Homo sapiens: one gene and its partners. The protein of the gene in region 5 purifies or fractionates together with the protein of the main gene of each other region. This does not show direct contact. Each region holds a gene or a part of one and is shown on either strand. Other genes may lie near its edges. The genes, in order: SERPINB1, BCAT2, TIMP3, UBR7 and CELA3B.

Region 1 (4,686 bases), on a different chromosome or scaffold from region 5:
ATGTGGACATTACTTATATCTACCTTATAGATTGTTGAGAGCATTAAATGAAATGATGTATATAAAGTGCTTGGCCCATAGTGCTACATAAATGTCAGCTATTATCATTACTATTGTTATAGCTATTGGACTGGAATAGAACCATCACTCTACTTCTTCTAATGGTGCTGATAATTCCTTTTAAGAGGCTAGAGATTTTCACTTTACAATCAGAAAAAAAACTAATGCAAAAATACAACCAAAAGAAAGGCCACATTGATTGTTATACAATGTATTAAAAGTCTGTACATGCAAATGATTAACATTAGACCCCCTTCCTGATAGCAAGGATGATGAATAGGTGGATAGGGAGGAGACGGAGAGCACAGAGCAGGCTAGAGTCCCTACATATAATGGAAACCTCATGCAAAGATCATACTAGTAAATAGGCCTAACATGTCACATGAGGCTTTTTCTGTCTTGTACCCATTGAAAATTTAATTCACTATCTATATGAATTGTGATGAGAACAAACAGTGTAATAATAGAATTTTATAGTACGTGATGAAGATATATGCTACACTATTTGGGGCTTTTCAATCTTTTTCCTCAGTAAAACAATCCTCATCTTACTGTAATTTCCTCTAAAGCTAATTCAAGAGCCTTTCCATGAGCTGCCACTAACCAGTATTATATTTAGTATAGATCTTTAATGACCCCATCACAAGTGTCCACTGAAAGTAGCTGGCCATCTTTCTTGAAAAATGAAACGTTAGCCGGGCACAGTGGCTCACAGCTATAGTCCCAGCTACTCAGAAGGCTGAGGCAGGAGGATTGCTGGAAGCCAGGAGGTCAAGACCAGCCTAAACAACATAGTGAGACCTTGTCTCTATAAGTAAATTTAAAAAAAAATTAACTCTGGGCTTTAGTGTAGTAAGTGTTGATGGGCTACATTTACAAAGGAATGACAAACTACTGGAAAATGCACCATCAGTGAACACTTAACAAGCACCTACCTACCATGCGACACACACATGCAAGAGGAACCACAAAGCATGAAGCCCAGGAGCCATACCTTCTTCAGGCCCGTGGACTCGTCCTCAATGTCATCCGGCAGCAGGATGACCATGCTGAGCTCCTCGCCTTGGTAAGGCAGTTCCAGCACACGGCACTTAAGGTCCTCGATGTAGCCATATGCAAATTTTTTCTTCTGATACATCATTTTCACAGTTTTTCTGTCTTTCTGAACAGTTTTAAAAAATCACTGAAATTATTCTCTGCATTCTTTTAGAGCAATGCATGACTCTGTACAGTTACCTCACCTCACCTTATTCAATCTGAATGGTGCATTCGTCGTGGCTTCTTTCATGAATTTATCCTTCCAGTTTCCCTTGAAATAGATGGCATTTACTAGCACAAGTTTGGTCATGTTATCAACCATGCCCGAAGCCAACAGTTCCGGAATTTTTCCTAAAAAAAAATCAAGTTAGCGTAAAAAAAATCCAAATCGGAATTCCAAATTTGAACTGACAATATATTAGCACGGAAATGCAATTCAAATATATAATTTCTACTTAATTTTCATTTAACAAGATATTAACTTAGGAAAGCCCTACTCACTAACATGTCTCTACTTTAAGTATAACAACCTGTGGGGCAGACAGACCAGGATGACACACAAACTTCCCACAAGGACCTGACATTTTAAACAAGTCAAATGTGCCGAAAGACAAAAGACAGGAAAATTCTCCTTTTCTGGACTGTATGATAAACAATGAGCCTTATTTTGTAACAACCATTCTTTTTTAGAAAAAAAAAATTCTTAATGAAGATATCTTTAGTCATCAGTAAATCACTTCTTCAAATCGCTGAGTAGATGCCTACTCTCACAAAAAAAGGTTTAAACAATATCCAAAAGGCAGAACAAGACCAAGCATGGTGGCGCACACCTGCAGTCCCAGTGCTTTGGGAGGTGGAGATGAGAAGATTCCTTGAGCCCAGGAGGTCAAGGCTGCAGTGAGCCACGATCGCACCACTGCACTCAAGCCTGGGCGACAGAGCAAGACTCTGTCTCTTAAAAACAAAAAACAAACAAACAAACAAAAAAACCAGCAGAACATACTCCATGGAAATAAAGGTCACCTTCGTGACCATAAGTATGGCTGGGAACAATTCCCATAATGGAAGACAGGTCTTCTGGAGTGGGTTGACTAATACAGGGCTATGTAAGAAGAGAGATGTAGCAAAGAAATAAATTGCACCCTAAAAGCAAGTCAGTCCCCACCTACCACAACTTTTTTACTGGACAAGATGTTGGCAAAAAATTTACAACCACAGTAGTTTGTGAATATTGATTTCAGGTATTTCCATGAAATTCCAGGACATTTCTTTCCATATGAGTATTAGGTAATTTTTGGCAGGCTGAATTCTCCTCAAAATTTTAATTCCTTTTTTGCTGTATTCAGTGTTGGTTTTAACTTTATTTTTTATTTTTTATTATTTTTATTATTTTTTTTACGACGGAGTCTCGCTCTGTTGCCTAGGCTGGAGTACAGTGGCATGATCTCGGCTCACTGTAACCTTTACCTCCTGTGTTCGAGAGATTCTCCTGCCTCAGCCTCCAGAGTAGCTGGGATTACAGGTGTGTGCTACCACACCTGGCTAAATTTTTTGTATTTTTAGTAGAGACAGGGTTTCATCATGTTGGCCAAGCTGGTCTTGAACTCCTGACCTCAAATGATCCGCCCGCCTTGGGCTCCCAAAGTGCTGGGATTACAGGCATGAGCCACCGCGCCTGCCAATGTTGGTTTTAACTTTGAAATGCAACTTTAAAAGTTTTGGGGAGCTGATGAGAAAAAAGGATTTAGCTGCTTGAGTTAAATCATGTTTAAGTTTCCACTCTGGTGAACTTCGAACATGTGAGAGCTGTCCAGCAACGTGCAGTGCAGACTTCACGCACCGGCAGCGTCCTCTGACTGTAACCACGATGTGCGCCAGGACTGTGGGAGCTGGGGAGGGAATAACTGCAGGTAGGGAAGGCGGACTGAGGAAACGAATGACATGACCAGCGCATAATGATTCCATTCTGCCCAGGCTCTCACCTTCTGTCTGTCCTTTGACCCACTGGTTTATGGTCTTCCTTGCATCTTCAGAGGCATGCTGAAAATCCACACTGGCCAGGTCAGCACCATATGTTTTCTGAGTCGAAACCAAGAACTCCTATTAAAAAAAAGGAAAAGGAAATATATATATAACTCCTACTACATATAGAAATTGTTTTCTAAAATCCCAAAAAGCAACAGAAATTGTCCTAAAAGGCTACAATTCCATGTAACACAAAATTTCTAACTCTTATAGTTTTTCTTATAGTAGTAAAAATCATTTAACATTAAATTTACGATCTTAGCCACTTTTAACTGTGCATTCCAGTAGTGGTAAGCCTAACCCTTATACTGTTGTTGTTATATAGAAATTACCACTCTTTTCTGAACTTTGACTAAGATTTCACAAACACTGATTGTACTCTTGCTTCAGTAAAACCTCCAAGAGCTATCTTTTCACTAAAAAGACTGTAACACAAAATCACCATGTCAATTAAAGTTTGCATTCTGTCGTGTTTGCCTTCCATATTGTTTTTGCCATGTTTGCCTTCTGTATTGTTTTTCTGAAAGTTTACAAATATTAAAACTGACCTCCATGACTTGATTGTGCTGGAAAATATCTGCACTGTCTAGTGGGGTTTTAGAATGTGAAGGGCAAAGTACTTACAGGAAGGAAATTGTAAGTTTTCTCTCCATATAATCTATTAGCAAGTTTCAGAATATAAGACGCTCCACGTTTGTTGATATCAGCATTCAGACTCTGGAATCTTGAATGAACCTCTTCAACCGTGTTGAAATGGAAAGTCTAAAATAAAGAAAATCTTCTTTCTACAACCATTTATTTTGAAACTATAAAGTGATTCCTTGGTGTTTCCTTCTATCACATTAAATTAATGTGTTTTTATTACTAATTATTGATGATCCCAAACCCAATACTTTATTAATTTGTCATTGCAGAACAAACAATAGGAAATCCAAAATTTATGGCTTCGTGAGACAGAATGTTTACAACTTTACACATTGCTTTTACATCACTCTTTGTTACACTTGCAGTTCCACAAATGTGGGTGGTTAAGATACTAAATATTTATATATAAGTCTGCCTTTTCCAAAGAAAATAATAAATGGTATGTTCATATTTATATTCTGTATCAAATATAATTTTACTGAAAGTTCTCAGAAATAAGCAGTAAAAATAGGATTCATCCTCTATTCAGAACCACAAAGATAGTACAGACTGAAGCTTTTAAAATTTTATTACCCTATTAACATCAGTAACTCACTTATTTTAAAATAACTTCCTTAAACTTAACATTCTGGCAAAAGTTTAATTCCCCATGTATCAGTTACAAATCAAGAGGCCCTTTGTGGTTTTATGAGACCTAGGCTGGTTCCTTTATGATTAAGACACAAAGAACAAAATTGCATAGGGTACGAAGTCCACATTACTCACCGAGATATGGAATGTTTGCACTGTGCCTATGCTCCATCTGCTTTAATGGAAATGGGGGAGGAGTCCTTAAAACTATTCTTTGCTGAGGTTTTAAAGTCCCTGGAAAACCTCAAGCTAGGAACTGATATAACCCTGCAAGAAGCAACTAACAAT
Region 2 (5,352 bases), on a different chromosome or scaffold from region 5:
GGAGTAGGAAGAGCAGGTCTGGCTGTGTCCAGCAGGCTGGGCCCTCTCTGGTGACCTTTGACCTCACAAGGCCTCTTTCCCCAGCCCTGTGGGGAGGCGTTGGGGCGTGAGGTTGAGAGAGACAGAGTGGCCTGGCCTGGCCTGCCCTGTGAGCTGGGTGAGTTGGCACTGATTCTGGAAGATGGACGTGAATGGGCGTGGTCACTTGTCGCTAGGTGAGTTGCTGGGAGATGGGCCTGCAGCGTGGTCTTGCTGGTGTGAGGCTCCAGGGATTCCGGGGTGATCAGAGCGTGGGTCCCCAGATTGCCTTTGGGTGGCGACATCTAGACTGCTCAGCCTTGCAGCCATGCTTCTGCCCAGAGGGATAGGACACCCACAGTATGAGAGACACAAACACAGTGCGACAGCCAGCCTGTGGGCAGGAGAGCTGCCCTCAGAGCCAAGATGAAAAAAAGAGAGTAAGAGATGGAAGAGGAAGGATGAGAAAAAGAAACACAGAAAGGGGCGCACAAACAGAAAAAAAAAAAAACAAAAACAGAAATTGACGCCAAGAAACAAGAGATGCCAAAATAGATCTAATCATAGAAAGAGGCCACACGCAGTGGCTCGCGCCTGTAATCCCAGCACTGTGGGAGGCCGAGGCAGGAGGATAGCTTGAGGCCAGGTGTTCAAGACCAGCCTGGGCAACATAGGGAGACCCTGTCTCTACAGAAAATACAAGTTAGCTGGGTGTGGTGGCGGGCGCCTGTAGTCCCAGCAACTTGGGAAGCTGAGGCAGGAGAATTGCTTAAACCCAGGAGGCGGAGGTTGCAGTGAGCCGAGATGGTGCCACTGCACTCCAGCCTGGGCGACAGAGCAAGACTCTCTGTCTCAATTAAAAAGAAAAAAAACAAAGAAAGAAAGTAGGCAGCTGGCTCAGTAGCTCATGCCTGTAATCACAGCACTTTAGGAGACAGAGGTGGGAGGACTGCATGAGGCCAGGAGTTCAAGATCAGCCTGGGCAATATAGCAAGACCCTGTCTCTACAAACAATTTAAAAATTAGCCAGGTATGGTGGCACACACCTGTAATTCCAGTTACTCAGAAGGCTAAGGTGGGAGGATCACCTTGACCTACTGGTCAAGGCTGTGGTGAGCTACGATCACACTGCTACACTCCAGCATGAGTGATAGAGTGTCTCTCAAAAAAAAAAAAAAAAAAAAAAAAAAAAAAGACCAGCATGGTGGCTCATGCCTGTAATCTGAGGCAGGTGGATCGCTTGAGCCCATCTACTCGGGAGGCTGAGGCACCACAGTCACTTGAACCCATGAGGCGGAGGTTACAGTGAGCCGAGATCGTGCCACGGCACTCCAGCCTGAGCAACAGAGCAAGACTCGGTCAAAAAGAAAAGACGAGACAAAGAAATAAAGTACGTTTGGGGGTTCACAGGGCAGGTCTCTATAATGTGATAGAACCTCCATTATGTCCCATACAGCCCAGGAGTATCACCATCAAAGACCAGGAGTGTCACTGTCAAAGCCCAGCAGTGCCCTCCATACTCCAGGACTGTCCCCATATCACGGCCCCGGAGAGACCCCATCATACCGCAGTCTGCCCTTGTCACAGCCCACACATGACCCCATCACGTCTAGAACTGCCCCCTTTATAGCCCAGGACTCTCCCCCATCACAGACCAGGGCTGTTCTATGATGGCCCAAGATGCTCCACATCACAAGTCCAGATTGTGCCTGTAACTTATCAGAACTGGTCCCCAGCAGAGCCAAGTACTGTCCCAAACAGCTCAGGAATGTCCCCTATCCAAAGCCCAGCACTTTTCCCCATTATAACCAGCATTGTCTCTGCCAAATATCAGGGCTTATTTCCTATTCACCAGGTCTGAAATTAAAAAAAAAAAAAAAATCCCATTGTTGTCTTTTTCAATCCCCAGGACTATCCCTATGTTGCTGTCTAGGCCAGTACCTTCCAGACTGTCCCTACCATGGTCCAGCACTGTCCTCTCCACACCCCGGGACTGTCCCCATCACAGCTGAGGACTCAGCCCAATTATCTCCATTACAGGATATCTCTATCTTCATCAGAGCCTAGGAATGTCCCATCATGAGTTCAGGGCCATTCTATGACACCAGAACTGTGCCATGATGAGACGGTCCACATCAGTCCCAAGTGGACCTGTCAAAGCCCAGTACTGCCCCACCACAGTCCAGGAGTGTCACCACTAAAGCCCAGATTGCCCACATACCCCAGGTATCCCAGGACTATCCCTATCAGTCACTAAGAGCCGAAAAAAGTGAAATTCTGCCCTGACATTCATCAGCTAGGATAAGAGACTCAAATAAAGTCAGGTGTAAAGTTAACAGACAGTTCTCCCAAGGTTACACCGCAGCTGTGAAGGCTTGTAATGACCCCTTTCTTTGGCTGTTTCCTTCCTCACTGAGAAACCTTGTTCTCTGAAATCATAGACTCTGGGAAACGCTGCTGCTGTTTGACATCGCACAGTCAGAAGGGATCGTCTCAGCCAGCCTGCAGCATCTGTCACTTTGACCATGAGACGCTGCCTCGATTTCCAATCCAGGTGCAAAGCTTCAGATAGGAGTTTGGGAAGCACAGCAATCCCCATCTCTTATTTTTTTCAACTTTCATTCCAAGAAAATAGGACCTTGAGTCCAATTCCCAGAGCTGAGACTTGAGGTCCAACTCTGCCTTCACCTGCACCCGGCCCTGGAGGTCTGGGCCCCTTTATTCCAGCTCCCGCACAGGCTGATGCCCCACCGCACCCCAGGGCTCCGCTCCCCAAATCACAACCTCCCCACCCCCACGCCTCCCTCATTACAGGGTCCTCCACCATGTTTCCCTTTTTTTTTTTTTTTTTACCTCCCCGCCAATTACTTGCCCCACCTCATCCGCGTCTACCTGCTCCCCCTCACCCCATTAAAGCCTCGTGCTCCTTTCCAAAGGGCGCCATCCTCCTCCGCGCCCTGCAGCGGAACCCCAGGGCGGGAGGAGCGGCGCCGAGTCGGACCGGCTGCAGGCCAGTGGTCTTCCCGGAAGTGCGCCTCCCCCGGTTATTTCCCAGACCCCGGCGCGGGGCTGCGAACCCACCTGCCCCAGAGCGGCTGCGGCCATGATCCGTGCGGCGCGTAACTGTGCCCGCCCGGGGCGCGGCTCCGAAGAGAGACGTTCCGGCCACGCCCCGCTCACGCCTCCTTCTGGGGGAAGGCGGCCGACCAGCGCCCCAGGCCGTCCCAGCTCCAGGGCGTCGGCAGGGAGCCGGACACTGCTGCGGGGCGCAGGCGCTGGTGGGAGGGCAGGACTTGAAATACGGTCCCTGCCAGGCGAAGTGGCTCAGGTCTGTAATCTTAGCACTTTGGGAGGCCGAAGCGGGCGGATTACCTGAGGTCAGGAGTTAGAGACCAGCCTGGTCCAACATGATGAAACCCCGTCTCTACTAAAAATACAAAAAATTAGCCGGGCGTGGTGGCGGGCGCCTGTAATCTTAGCTACTCGGAAAGCTGAGGCAGGAGAATTGCTTGAATCGGGGAGGCAGAGGTTGCAGTGAGCCGAGATGATGCCACTGCACTCCAGCCTGGGCGACAGAGTGAGACTCCGTCTCAAAAAAAAAAAAAAAAAAAAGTCCTGGCTTGGTGGCTCACACCTGTAATCCCAGCACTTTGGGGGCCAAGGCGGGTGGATCACCTGAGGCCAGGAGTTCAAGACCAGCCTGGCCGACATGGGGAAACCCCGTCTCTACTAAAAATACAAAAATTAAGGCCAGGCACGGTGGCTTACGCCTGTAATCCCAGCACTTTGGGAGGCCGAGGTGGGCGGATCACAAGGTCAGGAGTTCAAGACCCGCCTGACCAACATGGTGAAACCCCGTCTCTACTAAAGATACAAAAATTAGCCGGGTGTGGTGGTGTGCGCCTGTAATCCCAGCTACTAGGGAGGCTGAGGCAGGAGAATCATTTGAACCCTGGAGGCGGACGTTGCGGTGAGCCGAGATCGCGCCACTGCATTTCCAGCCTGGGTGACAGGGTGAGACTCCGTCTCAAAATAAATAAATAAATAAAAATAAATACATAAAAATACAAAAATTAGTCGAGCGTGGTGCCGGGGGCCTGTAATCCCAGCTATTCGGGAGGCTGAGGCAGGAGAATCGCTTGAACCCGGGAGGCGGAGGTTGCAGTGAGCCGACATTGCACCACAGCACTCCAGCCTGGGCGACAGAGTGAGACTCCGTCTCAAATTAAAAAAAAAAAAAAAAAATCGTATCCCTCGGCCATCGTGTCTCGGCAATCCTACCCTGGGACACTCTGTCTCCAAATTCTACCCCCACAGTGCCCCCAAGTCCTGTCCCCGGGTCACTATCCTGCCACCCCTAACAGCCACAGGCCCAAACAGCCAAACCGCGGGACCCTTCCCTCACAGGGCGTCGCCCTGTTTTTCTGCGCTCCGCCCCAGTCCTCCTGCCCCACCCGCCAGCCCCGGGCTGTAGGGTCGGGGCCCACTGACAGCTCCCGCCCCCGCCGCGGCCAATCAGCGGTTGGTGCACACGCCCCCCCGGCCACAGCCAATCCGCAGCAGCCCTGCAGCTCCACCCCTCACCTGGGGGACGCCAGCGCACCCGGGCCCTGCCCCCCCCCTGGGTCCAGCTGGGGAGTCTGCGTCCCCCAGTGCCCTGCGGACCAAAACCCAGGAGTTTCAGCCCCTCCTCCCTCTGATCCAGATGTCTCAACCCCCTACTTTCTCTTCCCTTTGGACTTTTCTTGCCAGCCACCTTCCTATTCTACAGGCAGTGAGAGGAAAACTCCTTTTCCCTGAGGGCCAAGAGTAAGAGGGCCTTCTGCGTCTCCCCCTCCATTACCTCCTAATTAGCGCTTAATTTACTCTCCCCTGCGGGCCTTTAGTTAGCGCGCTGGTGAAGCCAAACCGCTCTACCCTTCCCAGGAGCCCCTGGCGACAGCGACAGGGCTAGCAACATCAGGCACCTGCTTGCTGCAAGGCCTGGGGTTGGGGGGCGGGGGGAGCTGCAGTCCTTCAGGGTCGAGGCAACTTGTGGGTCTGGGGTGCAAGGGCTAAGTGGGGCAGAAGGACTCGTCTAAAGGATGGGAAATAAATATAACGATATCCTCCTCCTTCTGGCTGCAAATCGTTTTTATGGGAACCTGCAGGGTGACCCGGCACCTTGCTAACTGGGCTTAGAGTCTAAGGGCTTGGGGGCTGCATCTGATACAGGTTGGAGTTTGGGGTGGGAGAGTCCTAGGAAGGGGGCCCCAAGTAGAAATGAGAGAAATCAGGAAGGGATATCGGGGGCGTCCACGGGGGTGCTCCGACTGGCCTTGCACCCGTACCCCA
Region 3 (4,686 bases), on a different chromosome or scaffold from region 5:
ATTTAACAACTATACTATAGGTCACATTATACCATATCATATTATATATACTACTACATACTCTTATATTATTATAATTATATAATATGCATTTTCAATTTTAATAGTTCCTGCCAATTTGGCCTCCACAGTGGCTGTGTTAACACAGTTCTTTTCATATATGCAACATGAGGGGATGGAGGAATGTTAGAGCCCTGTGCTTAAGAGACTCCCATGCTTCTCTCAAATAGAAAAACAATTTATAATTTTTATTGACTTACTGAGTGTTTTTTTTCCTTCTTTTTGTCTCTTTGAAAGGGAGCAAAATTAGGGCCACGAAGATCAAGTTAATGGGAGTATTTTCATAGGGAGAGGAAGGCTGCAATGCCAGGAAAGCTGTGACCCTTGACTTGTTGCATGCTGGAGTAATTCGGTTGAAGATAGCTTTATGTATTTATTTTGCTTTCAGAATAAGCAGTGGACCATTTATTACACCAAGTTGTTTGACTTTGAGGACTTACATGGACTCAGGTTCAAAGGTATATGTGGCTGTGTTTTGAACACACATACACAGGGTTTTGCTTTCTGACTCAAAGCTGTCCGCTGGCCAGGCTCATGGTGGCAGCAAGGGCACTCACTCATCTGTCTCCCTTCTTGTTGCCTATGGATGGCACTTGGGTGAGAGCAGTGGGATGGTCACAAGGAGGAGGATGGACTGCCGAGAGGGAGGCTGGGTGGACCCCAGCCAAGAAGGACGCTGGGGTCTCATTATTATGGGAGCTAGAAGGCCTGGTTTAGGAAAGAATTCCTGTTCTGATGAAAGCTCTTCAGTGGACTCTTAGGATAAAGTATCATCAAATGGCTTTTACAAGGGCCAGTGTGGACCCTGCCTACCTCATCCTCATAGTCTCATCACTGGTCTGTCCTGCTCCAGCTGTTCATACTCTGTCTCTCTGGCTCTTGGCCCATGACACCCCCTCGGTTTTGAACAGTCCTCATTAACTTCTCATTCTCTAGGTCTCCTTTGGTTCCTTTCCCTGATCACTCCTTGGCATTGGTACAGACGAACAGTCATAAACCTTGCCCATATTTTAAGCATGCTGAAAAACACCATCTCTAGTAAAACCCAAATTCTCCAAAGCTGCATGGGAAACTCCCAGAGGGGATCATTCCTGCGCTGGGAGAAAGAACTTAGGGCTGCGTGCCACCCAGAGGGATAAACCTAACCCACTTTAGAGGGTAAGCACCCACTATGCTCTCTGCATTACTTGATAAGTCTAGTCCTGTCTTCTGGTGGACATGATACCCTAGCACCCTCCCAGAGAAGAAAGTGGAGATTTCTAAATGCCAACCCTGCAGGAGATCACAAACATAATACTGTAATTTTCATAGTAAGTTTGGTGCCCTTACTATGTGCCAGGCACTGTACCAAGCTCCTTACTTGCCTATCAGTCATCCCAGCTGCCTGATGAGCTGTCTCAGGCTAGGGAAGCCAAATGGCTTGCCCAAGCTCACACCACTTGCAACCTATACTTGCTTAGCCTATCTCCAAAACCTGTGTTTCCAATCAGTCTCTCATATAGACCAAGGGCTACAACTTTTTAGACTTGGGAAGATTCTACCCATTTTGCGACCTCTCCACATGAGTCTTTGGCTCCCCACTGTTGGGGTCCCCGTCAGTCTGCTTATCTTTGGTTTTCTTCCTCTCCAGACATGCCTTCCCTGCTGCCCCCAAATTTTATTACTGTATAGTCAGTTCTGGGATCCTAACATAACCAAGCCTTACCTCCTAACCCAGTGCCCTTTCAACTCTCTCAGTGGTTCCCAGACTTTTCAACACTATGGAATTTTTTAAAATTAATTTTTCCCTCCAATAAGTTCTGTGTTTGGAACAGTTATCCGACACAATTTCATGTGTTGAGTGTTGATTAACTTTCCATTAAAAAACAAATTAAAATATAACTAGAACTGCTGATACTAGCCAGTCATTATTCTGACACAATCAGCTAATATACTAATTAATTATAGCCGAAAGCAAGGACGGTTGGTGTTTTCATAAGCCTGGGAAGTTTTCTCATGGGTTCCTGGGTGATTGCATTGTCGGATTTGGGTTGGCTTACTGATATGCCTAAAATAGCTCCTGGCTTCTTTGGTATATCGCTGTCCTTTGCCCCTCCTGAGAATCTTTAGTTTCATGCCAGCTTAGCATCTCTTCTCCCTGTGGGCAGGTCCCATGCATTTACTGCCATTGTCACTTCTCCCTGTTACCCACAGTGCTGCCACCATGCCTGGGATAGACAGCAGGTAACTGATGTGTCCTAGTTGAGGTCCCTATCCTTTCAGAGGAGGTGACATGGGTTCAGATATTTTCCTATGTTCATGTCTGGCATCCAGGGGTACACAAAGTATTGATTCTAGCTAAAGGGACTTACTAAATACTGTTTGACAGGAGGCCCACAGGTGTCTATGTGGGCTGCAGTGGAACTAAGAGGTCTTTTTGTTCAGCTGTTAAAAAATTAGTGTTTGTAGCTTCAGAGGGGCCCCAGAGAACCTTTCCTGACCCATTTAGAGGCCATCTGTGTGGCTAGGATGGCTTTGCTGTCACAGAAGGGACAGTCCACACTACCCAACACTCAAGTCTGATTTATGTTCATGTAAATCCGATCACCTAATGGTGGCATTCACGGCTTGGAGACAAGAAACTATAAGTGTTTCCAAGCCTGCAGCCACCTGGCTTTTTGTGGGGGTGGGGAAGGGAAGGAAAGCTGTACGATCTGGCCTCAGAGAGCCCAAGGTAAAGTTCAGTTAGTGGAAAAACAGAGCCCTAGATGATTGGGCGGGGGGTGGGTACTGGGGAGTGGAGAGGGGAAGTCCTGAGCTGACCAAGCCTCCAAGAGCCATTCCGGAACTAGAGATCTTAAATACTACATGGTAATTATCCCCTCTGCCTCTGCCCATGAGGGTGTCAGGCACAGGGCCGCCTGGCTGCCTGCAGAGAAGAGCTGTTTCATTCAGAAACTTCAGAGCTCCTGCAATGCCTGGATTAGGATGTGGGGATGGTGAGTTTCGCAACCAGGGTCAGATTTCATGAAGACTTGGTTTCGTGACTTGAGGTGTTTGACTAAGGTGTTTGCATCTCATGTATTTAGGAAGGGCTCCCTTTTGACTTAGACTTTATCATCATGAATAAGCTCCCTGCCTTTTCGATTTGGAAACATGATAGCTCTAGTGAGCTCTGCTACTCCCAAGCTTGGGCAGGTTCTTTGCCTCAGTTTCCTCATCTCTAAAATGGGGGGAAATATATTATGTACCACGTGGTAACTTCATTGGCAATTAAGTGAAATACTTCATGGAATGTTTAGCACTAAATATTCCTTAGTGTTGAAAAGGCTGGGAACCACTGAGACAGTTGAAAGGGCACTGGGTTAGGAGGTAAGGCTTGGTTATGTTAGGATCCCAGAACTGACTATACGGTAATAAAATTTGGGGGCAGCAGGGAAGGCATGTCTGGAGAGGAAGAAAATCAAAGATAAGCAGACTGAGGGGGGCCCCAAAAGTGGGGAGCCAAAGACTCAGGTGGAGAGGTCGCAAAATGGGTAGAATCTTCCCAAGTCTAAAAAGTTGTAGCCCTTAGTCTATACAAGAGACTGATTCTTGGCACAGAATAGCTCAATAAGAATAAGCATGAGCTTTTAGTAGTAGTGTTGTTATAGAGCAGAGCTGATATTCTCACTTCACTTTCGGTGAGGAAAATGGCGCTCTGTGGTGTGATGTGATGTTTTCCAGGGTCATATAGAGAGAGCTGAGTTTCAATTCAAAATCGTGGTTTGATCCCCCCGCCTCCAAATCTAATGTGTTCCATTTTGTCACAGTGCTTCCCACAGGGCAGAGAAAGAAACAACAAAGTTCCTACTCTATTTTCACAACTCTTCACATTTTAGAGTCTTAAGTCCATTTGATCTCATTTGATGACAACTTCGCAACGAGGAAAGCAGGATGGTGATTGGGGGGTCGGTCATAGTTCCTAGTTAGTGGATGTCAGTATTGAGAATGGCGGGGTTCTGTGGCTTAGCCATATAGCCAATACATGGAATGGGATTGGAACCCATGTCTTCTGAGGGCAAGCCCAACACTTGTCAAGGATCTGGTGCTGCCCTTCCCTCTTTAGACAGCTCCCATTGATAAGCAGAGGTAGAAGTCACTAGGGTAGCCAAAGAGAGGGCCCTAGAAATGGAATGGTGACAATGAACTTGGCTGAAGAGTCAGCAACCGCTCCCCTATCCACTGCCAGGGCTAGGAGGTGCAGTGTGGCATGGAGGAGGAGCACTGGCTGGAGTTAGGAGGCCTAAGGTCTAGTCCTAGTTCATCATCTGACTCTGGAGTCCCCTTGGTGATACTGACCTCCCTGGGTTTGGTCTCTTATCTGTAAAACAGCAGGATATTGGCTCTATGTGGTGTGTATTTCACTGAATGCCTACTATGGTCAAGTTTTTCTGGCTCTAAGTTCCCTTGGAAAGGGCTCTCTACTTTAGCTGAATAACTCAGCACCTAAATCTGTCAACCACACCCTTCAGTAGGTAACTTTGTTAGAAATATGGTCTATTAAGGTAAGAGCCAGGATTTCTGTGGTTGCAAAAGTGGATGCGGGCTCTGAACAAAACCTCTAGTGAGCTGAGATACTTTATCAGATGACATATTTGACCACCA
Region 4 (4,686 bases), on a different chromosome or scaffold from region 5:
TCTCATCTGGAATCTAACAGAGAAAAGCAGTTTGTTAAGGATTACATTGAATTCGGGAACATGGAAATAACCTGGCACACAGTAAAATAAGATACTAAATATTTGTTCTACATGAACTGGTGTTCCAAAGGCTTACATTGAGATAAGCACTTTACAAACAATCTCAAGGCTCTTTCACATCCATTACTTAATATCTGATTCTCACAAAACTGTGTAGACAAGGAGGGCATTCCCATTTTATACAAAACTCAGGCCCAGGCAAGTAATGTGAATGGACCAGTGCAGACAGTGACAACTGGGACTTTTTACCACACCATCCTTTAATACAATATTCAGTTGTATTACTGTATAAGGATGTTCACTCCAGCCTTCTTTATAATATTGAAAAATTAGACAATGCCTTTCTGCTGCAGAAGAACCATCCTGCCAAGTACACTGAAAAGTAAATGTTATGAAAAACCTCGATAGATAACTCCTCTAATTTGAATAAATTAAATAATTAAATGCTGGCCCTAGGAAAATAATATACCAAAGGACATAGACTATTTTGGGGATGATTTTCTTTTACTCCCAGGCTCTCATAACTGTTAATTAACATCCCAATGTTGTTCTGTCCTTTTCCTATCGTAGGCTTCTTAAAGGGAATAAAAAAGCACATATTGTGGAACAGGAGGAGCTGTAACACTTTACCACATGCCTTAAAATATCCAGTTTTGGCTGGGCGTGGTGGCTCACGCCTATAATCCCAGCACTTTGGAAGGCCAAGGTGGGTGGATCGCCTGAGGTCAGAAGTTTAAGACTAGCCTGGCCAACATGCTGAAATCCTGTCTCTACTAAAAATACACAAATTAGCCGGGCATGGTGGCGAGTGCCTGTAATCCCAGCTACTCAGGAGGCTGAGGCAGAAGAATCGCTTGGACCTGGGAGGCAGAGGTTGCAGTGAGCTGAGATCGCACTACTGTACTCCAGCCTGGGTGACAGAGCGAAACTCCGTCTTAAAAAAAAGAAAAAAAAAATCCAGTTTTAAGGTTTTATTTTTGTTAACTCAAAGAGACTTTCAATCTGTCCCTCTATATAATTTGGTTCAATAATTATAGTTCCAACGCAATTAGAAAGCAAGGAAGAAGGCAGAAGACTAATATCTCTAAAGACAAAAAGTACTCTTTCAAATCGGTAAATACCCAGACAAAACCCAAACCAATCAAAACATGGACTGAGGATATGAAAGGACAATTCAGAGAGAAGGTTATTATGGATGTCCAATGAACTTATGAAAAGATGCATAACCTCACTTATCATCAGGGAAAGAAAAAAAAATTTAAGATACTATTCTTTGGCTGGGCGCGGTGGCTCACGCCTGTAATCCCAGCACTTTGGGAGCCCGAGGCAGGCGGATCATGAGGTCAGGAGATTGAGACCATCCTGGCTAACACGGTGAAACCCTGACTCTACTAAAATTACAAAAAATTAGCTGGGCGTGGTGGCGGGCACCTGTAGTCCCAGCTACTCAGGAGGCTGAGGCAGGAGAATGGCATGAACCCGGGAGGTGGAACTTGCAGTGAGCCGAGATCGCGCCACTGCATTCCAGCCTGGGTGACAGAGCGAGACTCCGTCTGAAAAAAAAAATGAAAAAAAAGATACTATTCTTCATTTATCAGAATGGCAAAATTTTCAAGAACTGGTAATATGCAAGGTTGACAAAAGTGTTGGGGAAAAAACACTATCATATACTGTTGCTGGTACAACTTTTTTGGCAGATATGATCACAATTTTATTTTATTATTTATTATGATTATTATTTTTTGAGACAGGGTCTCGCTCTGTCACCCAGGCTGGAGTGCAGTGCCGCAATCCCAGCTTACTGCAACCTCTGCCCCATGGGTTCAAGTGATTCTTGTGTCTCAGCCTCCCGCGTAGCCAGGACTACAGGCATAAGCCACAGTGCCCAGCCAATCACAATTTTAAATGCCACAAATACACTTTGATCCGTCAATTATACCGATCCATTCTACATAAATACTTGGAGTATACTCAGTTGTATTACTGTATGAGGATGTTCACTCTAGCTTTCTTTATAATATTGAAAAATTACACAATGCCATTCTGCTGTAGAAGAACAATCAGGTTGACTAACTTATGGCATATGAAATTATAGGATACTCTGCAGCAGTTAGAAGGGGGTAAGTGTGTTTTGTTGACATGAAAGAATGTCTATGATATACTGGTGAGAAAAGCCAGCTGCAGAAGTGAGTGTACAGAATTTTCACTTCTGTTAATAGAAAGGAAACTACACATTGAAACACACATTCACTCAAACACTTCTATGTGCACAGAAAAAGGACTAAAAATATACACACCAAAAGTGTTAACAGTGGTTATGCCTGGGAGGTAAGAGGTGCAGAAGTGAGGAAGAACTCGTTTTGAATTTTGCATATACTTCTCATTGACGTTTTTAAGAGGATGCTGTTTGTATACCCCATTTTTTTCCGTAAAGAGACAAAAGAAGTTGAAGGTCATTTCTTAGAAAGTGTTTGGGGACTGGGGGAGGCAGTCAGGGAAGGAGAGGAAGGGAAGAAGCTCTGGCTTTGGGAAAGTCCTCTCCAATATTTCATTCTTATGATGTAAAAATGAAAAGAATGGTTGAGATGTGTACCAATTATAGATCCAACCCAGATTCATAAGAAAAGATAAATCTAGAGCCCTTTCACCATCCCACACTGCCTCTTGAAGAGCCAGAGGCTCGGATATGACAAGCAGTTGAGGAATCAAGGCTAGAGGGGACACACCCCCAGGTTTAACTTCCAATTCTCTTACCTCGTCTTCAGGATCAGGATAAGGTCTCTTGCAAATGCAGTACAATCCAAAAAAGTTGTCATTGTACTTATTGCCAGAATTTACCTTTGCTTTGTCCTGAAATATAATATTGATTTCAATAATAATATGGTCTAATTTTAACTATAATTTCACACATTATAAAATTTATGCATTCAATACATTTCCACATTATTTCCCCCAAGAGGCTGATCTTTAATTTTCAAAGTAGGAAAAAAAAAACTCACTACCACTAAAGGGATACTTTTTTCAGGACACAGGGAAAAAATAATTTTTTTTTGTTTTTTTTTGTGGTAATTAGGAGAAATTAAATACACCTATTCAATAAAATGGAGATAAAAGTTAATCATAAATATTAATTATCAATCTATGTGAACTGATATTGGCCTGGAATTTCAAGGTACTTCTTTTTTCTTTTTGATAGAGATGGGGTCTCACTATGATGCCCAGGCTGGTCTGGGTTCAAGCCATTCTCCCACCTAGGCCTCCCAAAGTGTTGGGATTACAGGTATGAGCCACCACGCCCAGCCTTATTTATTGGTTTTTCTTTTTCTTTTTTTTTTGAGATGGAGTCTCGCTCTGTCGCCCAGGCTGGAGTGCGGTGGCACAATCTCGGGTAACTGCAACCTCCGCCTCCTGGGTTCAAGCGATTCTCCTGCCTCAGCCTCCCAAGTAGCTGGGATTACAGGCACGCACCACCATGCCCAGATAATTTTTTGTATTTTTAGTACGGGGGGGTTTCACCATGATGGCCAAGCTGGTTTTGAACTCCTGACCTCAAGTGATCCACCTGCCTCGGCCTCCCAAAGTGCTAGGATTACAGGTGTGAGCCACCGTGCCCGGCCTATTTATTGTTTTTGTTTGTTTGTTTTGAGATGGAGTCTTGCTCTGTTGCCAGCTGGAGTGCAGTGGCGCAATCTCGGCTCACTGCAACCTCCGCCTCCTGGGTTCAAGCAATTCTCCTGCCTCAGCCTCCCAAGTAGCTGACCGAGTAGATGACTGGGTGCCACCATGCCCAGCTAATTTTTGTATTTTTAGTAGAGACAGGGTTTCACCATGTTGGCCAGGATGGTCTCGATCTCTTGACCCTATTTATTGTTTTTAAGTCATATCCGCTGATTTAAAAGCCTCAGAGAATAAGTACAACCAATATAATTAAACCTGAATTACTTTCAAGTACATCTCTCCCCCAAACCTTTCATATTAATTACCATCTATCTTGTAGGCTCTCAACAGTTTATATAGTTTTTCTAACAAAGTAAAAAATGAAATGGCCATCTGCAAAGAATAAGCATAAGAACTTCTTTTTTTGGAAAATACAGGTATTTGTTTTTTTACCCACTCTGGCAAATATTAACCTCAGCTGCTCTAAATGCATTTATAGTTACAGTGCTTACTTACAGGAAGTAATTTGCATTCCAAATTTTTAAACTTGCTGTTTCCACAATCACAACGAAAATTTCTGAAAAAAGGAGGAAATAACAATTTTATTTTTCTTTTTACAAAATCCAATTTAAAATTTCTTCAAGCATTCAAGCACATAGTAAGACTTCACAATTCGGGAAATTAATATGTACAAAAGCAAATATTTATATCACATACAAACACACAAGTAAAATGATGGCAGGGAAAGATAAATGGTTTGAGTTTGTACCATATTATGTTTTTAAAGGCTCTAGAAACAACTCTCTCCAATTATATAAAATAATTACATTAAATTTCATTAGTGCTGGGCGAGGTGGCTCACGCCTGTAATCCCAGCACTTTGGGAGGCTGAGGCGGGCGGATCACGAGGTCAGGAGATCGAGACCATCCTGGCTAACTCGGTGAAACACCGTCTCTACTAAAAATACA
Region 5 (4,019 bases):
ACTCGTGGGCTCAAGTGATCCACCCACCCTGGCCTCCCAAAGTGCTGGGATTACAAGTATGAACCACCAGGCCCAGCCAGACTCCCTTGTTTTATGTTGCTTTTGTCTGTGTAACAGCATTCTTTTTTTTTTTTAAGAAGGAGTTTCGAACTCGTGACCTCAGTTGATCTACCTGCCTCAGCCTCCCAAAGTGCTAGGATTACAAGCATGAGCTACTGCACCTGGCCAGCGTTCTTCCTTTCAAAACTCAACTGTTTGCTGGCTCTGGGCTCGTGCGCAGCATTGTGTGTACCTGTGTGTGTATACCTGTGTACCTGTGTGTGTGTCTTCTCCCCCCTTCAGTAAGGGCTCTTCCTAGGGTTGCCTGACTTGTCTCTGTTTTTCCAGCCCTGAACTTGCCACAAGGCAGGTACCTAATACATGTTTAATGAATGACCGTGATATGCTCATGACATGGTTAGGCTTTGTGTCCCCACCCAAATCTCACCTTGAATTGTAATCCCCATAATCGCCATGTGTCAAGGGAGAAGGTAATTGAATCATAGGGCGGTTCCCCCATGCTGTTCTCATGATAGTGAGTGAGTTCTCGCCAGATCTGATGGTTTTATAAGGGGCTCTTCCCCCTTTGCTAGGCAATTTTCCTTCCTGCCACCTTGTAAAGAAGGTCCCTTGCTTCCCCTTCATCTTCCACCATGATTTTAAGTTTCCTGAGGCCTCCCCAGCCATGCTGAACTGTGAGTCAATTACACTTCTTTCCTTTATAAACTACCCAGTCTCGGGCAGTTCTTTATAGCAGTATGAACACAGACTAAGAGAGCTATCTTTAAATAATGAGTCACTTCAGGGCAGGAACCATGTCTCCTTACCCCTCTGAGCCCTCCTTTAAAACAAGGAATAAGTGTTTGTTGAATGAATGAATAACCAAAGCCCCCAGCCCATCAGTGGAAGCAGATCACACATTGTCCTTCCCACTCTACCATGAGCCTGCTGAGGGGCTGGCAGGGTCTGTTTATCTGCAGATTTTTACCATGTTTATATGCCTGCATTGAAAAGCTACTGACTTATGTGCGACTATATACTAAGGCGACCAACTTGTCCCATTTTTCCTGGTACCTTCCCAGTTTTAGCATTAAATGTCCAGTGTCTTCACTCCTGAAGTTCCAGGCAAACCAGGATGGTCAGGTCACCGCACAGCAACTCCCTTCTCTCCCAGCATCATTTTTCCCTCATCTTCGTATGAAAGGGTTGGACCTGGTCCTGTCTCTGCATATGAGATCTAAGATTTTAGGAACAGGCCAGAGGGGAAGAGGTGAGTCAACAAAGAAAGAAAGATTCAACTTGGAATTTTCTGAGAGATCTTTATTCTTTATTCAGGATGTGGGATCGATCAGCACTGCCAGCTGGGCCTTGGTTCTAGTGGCTTGCTATGGTCTGGAAAAGTTGGGGGGGCAGACAGAATAGTCAATTTAGGAGCACAGGTTCTGGAGTCAGATGAAACTGGGTTCAACTTCCAGCCCTGCTGTGTGACCCTGGGAGAGGAATTGACCTCTCTGAGCCTCAGTTTCCTCCTCTATGTAGTAGGGATAATGATAGAACTTACCTCATGGGGGGGTTCTTGATTAAATTGTTAACTAAGGTTCTCTCTACAATGGCCAGCATGAATTTAGATGGGATGTGTGCATAGATATATATACATATATATGTGTGTGTGTGTATATATATACGTCTGTGTGTGTATATATATGTATGTATGTATGTATGTATATAAACAAAATATATATTTTTGGAGTTTTTTTTCTTTTTGAGACAGAGTCTCACTCTGTTGCCCAGGCTGGAGTGCAGTGGCACAATCTCAGCTCACCGCAACCTCCACCTCTTGGGTTCATGCCATTCTCCTGCCTCAGCCTCCCAAGTAGCTGGGACTACAGGCGTACGCCACCATGCCTGGCTAATTTTTGTATTTTTAGTAGAGACAGGGTTTCACCTTGTTAGCCAGGATGGTCTCAATCTCCTGACCTTGTGATCTGCCCACCTCAGCCTCCCAAAGTGGTGGGATTACAGGCATGAGCCACCATGCCCGGCTTTTTTTTTTTTTTTTTTTTAAGATGGAGTCTTGCTCTGTCGCCCAGGCTGGAGGGCAGTGGTGCAATCTTGGCTCACTGCAACTTCTGCCTCCCGAGTTCAAGCAATTCTTCTACCTCAGCCTCCCAAGTAGCTGAGATTACAGCCATGCAGCACCACGCCCAGCCAATTTTTTTATATTTTTGTAGAGACAGGATTTCACCATATTGGCCAGGCTGGTCTCGAACTCCTGACCTTATGATCTGCCTGCCTCGGCCTACCAAATTGCTGGGATTACAGGCATGAGCCACCGTGCCTGGCCTTATATATATATTTTTTTAACATGGGTCAGGGAACCAAGGGATTAAATGGTCTATAAATCATCACTGTTTTTTTGTTTGTTTGTTTGTTTTTGTTTTTGAGATGGAGTCTTGCTCTGTCACCCAGGCTGGAGTGCAGTGGCGTAATCTCGGCGCACTGCAACCTCCGCCTCCCAGATTCAAGCAGTTCTCCTGCCTCAGCCTCCTGAGTAGCTGGGACCACAGGCATGCACCAATACGCCCGGCTAATTTTTTGTATTCTTAGTAGAGATGGGGTTTCACCATGTCGGCCAGGCTGGTCTTGAACTCCTGACCTCAGGTGATCCATACGCCTCGGCCTCCCAGAGTGCTGGGATTACATGCATGAACCACTGTACTTGGCCAGAAATGTTTTTTTAATGGAAGCCTTCATGACTTTGCATGTCATCCTTGCGCAGGGGCCGTGCTAATCTCTATATCATTCCAATTTTAGTACATGTGCTGCCAAAGCAAGCACTACTGTTTTATTTTATTTAGTTTATTTTCATTTTTTTAAGAGAGAGGCTCTTGCTGTGTTGCCCAGGCTGGAGTACAGTGGCTATTCACAGGTGTGATCCTACTACTTTTCAGCATGTGAGTTTTGACCTGCTCTGTTTCTGACCTGGGACAGTTCACCCCTCCTTAGGCCACCTGGTGGTCCCCACTCCCAGGAGGTCACCACATGGATGCCAAACTTGGTGCAGAACCAGATGGGTATAGCGCACTATGGCCCAGAACTCCAGGGCTCAACCGATCCTCCTGCCTCAGCCTCCCAAGTAGCTGGGACTACAGGTGGGCATCACTGCACCCAGCTAGCTATTACTCTTTTTTTTTTTTTTTTTGAGACGGAGTCTCGCTCTGTCACCTAGGCTGCAGTGCAGTGGTATGATCTCGACTAACTGCAACCTCCGTCTCCCAGGTTCAAGCAGTTCTCTGCCTCAGCCTCCCGAGCAGCTGGGATTACAGGCACCCACCACCATGCCCGGCTAATTTTTGTATTTTTAGTAGAGACAGGGTTTCACCATCTTGGCCAGGCTGGTCTTGAACTCCTGACCTTGTGATCCACCTGCCTCTGCTTCCCAAAGTGCTGGGATTACTGGCATGACTACTCCATGCCCAGCTATTACTCTTTTTTTTTTTCTTTTTTTTTTTTGTTTAGCTATTACTGTTATCAGGAGTGTTATTAGTCCTCTCTGATCACCCATCCCCAGATGAAGTCTGGGGCCTGGACTCCCCTCTCTCGGCTCTCATCAGACTGCATCGTTCTCATTCATGTAATCACCTGTCCCCCACCAGGCAGCCTCTTGTCTGGCATGTCTCTCTATCCTCCCTGACAAGAGAGGACAAGACCAGAGGAGATACTTTATAAATACTTGTTGAAATAAGGAAGTTCAGCTGTAGTTCCAAGCACCACCCAGAAGCCATCAAGTTCCTGGGGTCACACTGTATCAGAAAACATCCCCAAGCCTTTCTGGAATGTCCCCAAGGGCCCTTCCCCACTGAGCTTCTAGGATCCTTTCAGGCCCTCCCCAGGATCCGATGTTTCTCACCTGTCACCTCTCAGAAGAGCCACCACCCTAAAGCCCTCCGGGCCGCCCTGCCCTCCTCACCTCCTCAATC

Evidence for each region.
Region 1: the proteins of CELA3B (region 5) and SERPINB1 purify together in Homo sapiens (affinity purification with mass spectrometry; one large-scale study listed by BioGRID and IntAct). This does not show direct contact.
Region 2: the proteins of CELA3B (region 5) and BCAT2 purify together in Homo sapiens (affinity purification with mass spectrometry; one large-scale study listed by BioGRID and IntAct). This does not show direct contact.
Region 3: the proteins of CELA3B (region 5) and TIMP3 purify together in Homo sapiens (affinity purification with mass spectrometry; one large-scale study listed by BioGRID and IntAct). This does not show direct contact.
Region 4: the proteins of CELA3B (region 5) and UBR7 purify together in Homo sapiens (affinity purification with mass spectrometry; one large-scale study listed by BioGRID and IntAct). This does not show direct contact.

Annotation. Positions count from the first base shown.
Region 1 is NC_000006.12:2,834,802-2,839,487, forward strand, and holds part of SERPINB1 (leukocyte elastase inhibitor), read right to left. Parts: intron 4,666-4,686; exon of another isoform or gene 4,534-4,665; intron 3,886-4,533; coding exon 3,748-3,885; intron 3,199-3,747; coding exon 3,081-3,198; intron 1,450-3,080; coding exon 1,307-1,449; intron 1,223-1,306; coding exon 1,055-1,222; intron 1-1,054.
Region 2 is NC_000019.10:48,807,885-48,813,236, forward strand, and holds the start of BCAT2 (branched-chain-amino-acid aminotransferase, mitochondrial isoform a precursor), read right to left. Parts: upstream 3,146-5,352; 5' UTR 3,124-3,145; coding exon 3,100-3,123; intron 2,954-3,099; exon of another isoform or gene 2,460-2,953; intron 353-2,459; exon of another isoform or gene 1-352. Other genes in the region: HSD17B14 (L-fucose dehydrogenase), read right to left, coding at 5,291-5,352. UniProt on the Homo sapiens protein: Catalyzes the first reaction in the catabolism of the essential branched chain amino acids leucine, isoleucine, and valine. May also function as a transporter of branched chain alpha-keto acids.
Region 3 is NC_000022.11:32,807,708-32,812,393, forward strand, and holds part of TIMP3 (metalloproteinase inhibitor 3 precursor), read left to right. Parts: intron 1-3,608; exon of another isoform or gene 3,609-4,686.
Region 4 is NC_000014.9:93,210,256-93,214,941, reverse strand, and holds part of UBR7 (putative E3 ubiquitin-protein ligase UBR7), read right to left. Parts: intron 4,295-4,686; coding exon 4,234-4,294; intron 2,911-4,233; coding exon 2,815-2,910; intron 14-2,814; coding exon 1-13. UniProt on the Homo sapiens protein: E3 ubiquitin-protein ligase which is a component of the N-end rule pathway. Recognizes and binds to proteins bearing specific N-terminal residues that are destabilizing according to the N-end rule, leading to their ubiquitination and subsequent degradation.
Region 5 is NC_000001.11:21,986,674-21,990,692, reverse strand, and holds the end of CELA3B (chymotrypsin-like elastase family member 3B preproprotein), read right to left. Parts: coding exon 4,010-4,019; intron 1,432-4,009; coding exon 1,414-1,431; 3' UTR 1,339-1,413; downstream 1-1,338. UniProt on the Homo sapiens protein: Efficient protease with alanine specificity but only little elastolytic activity.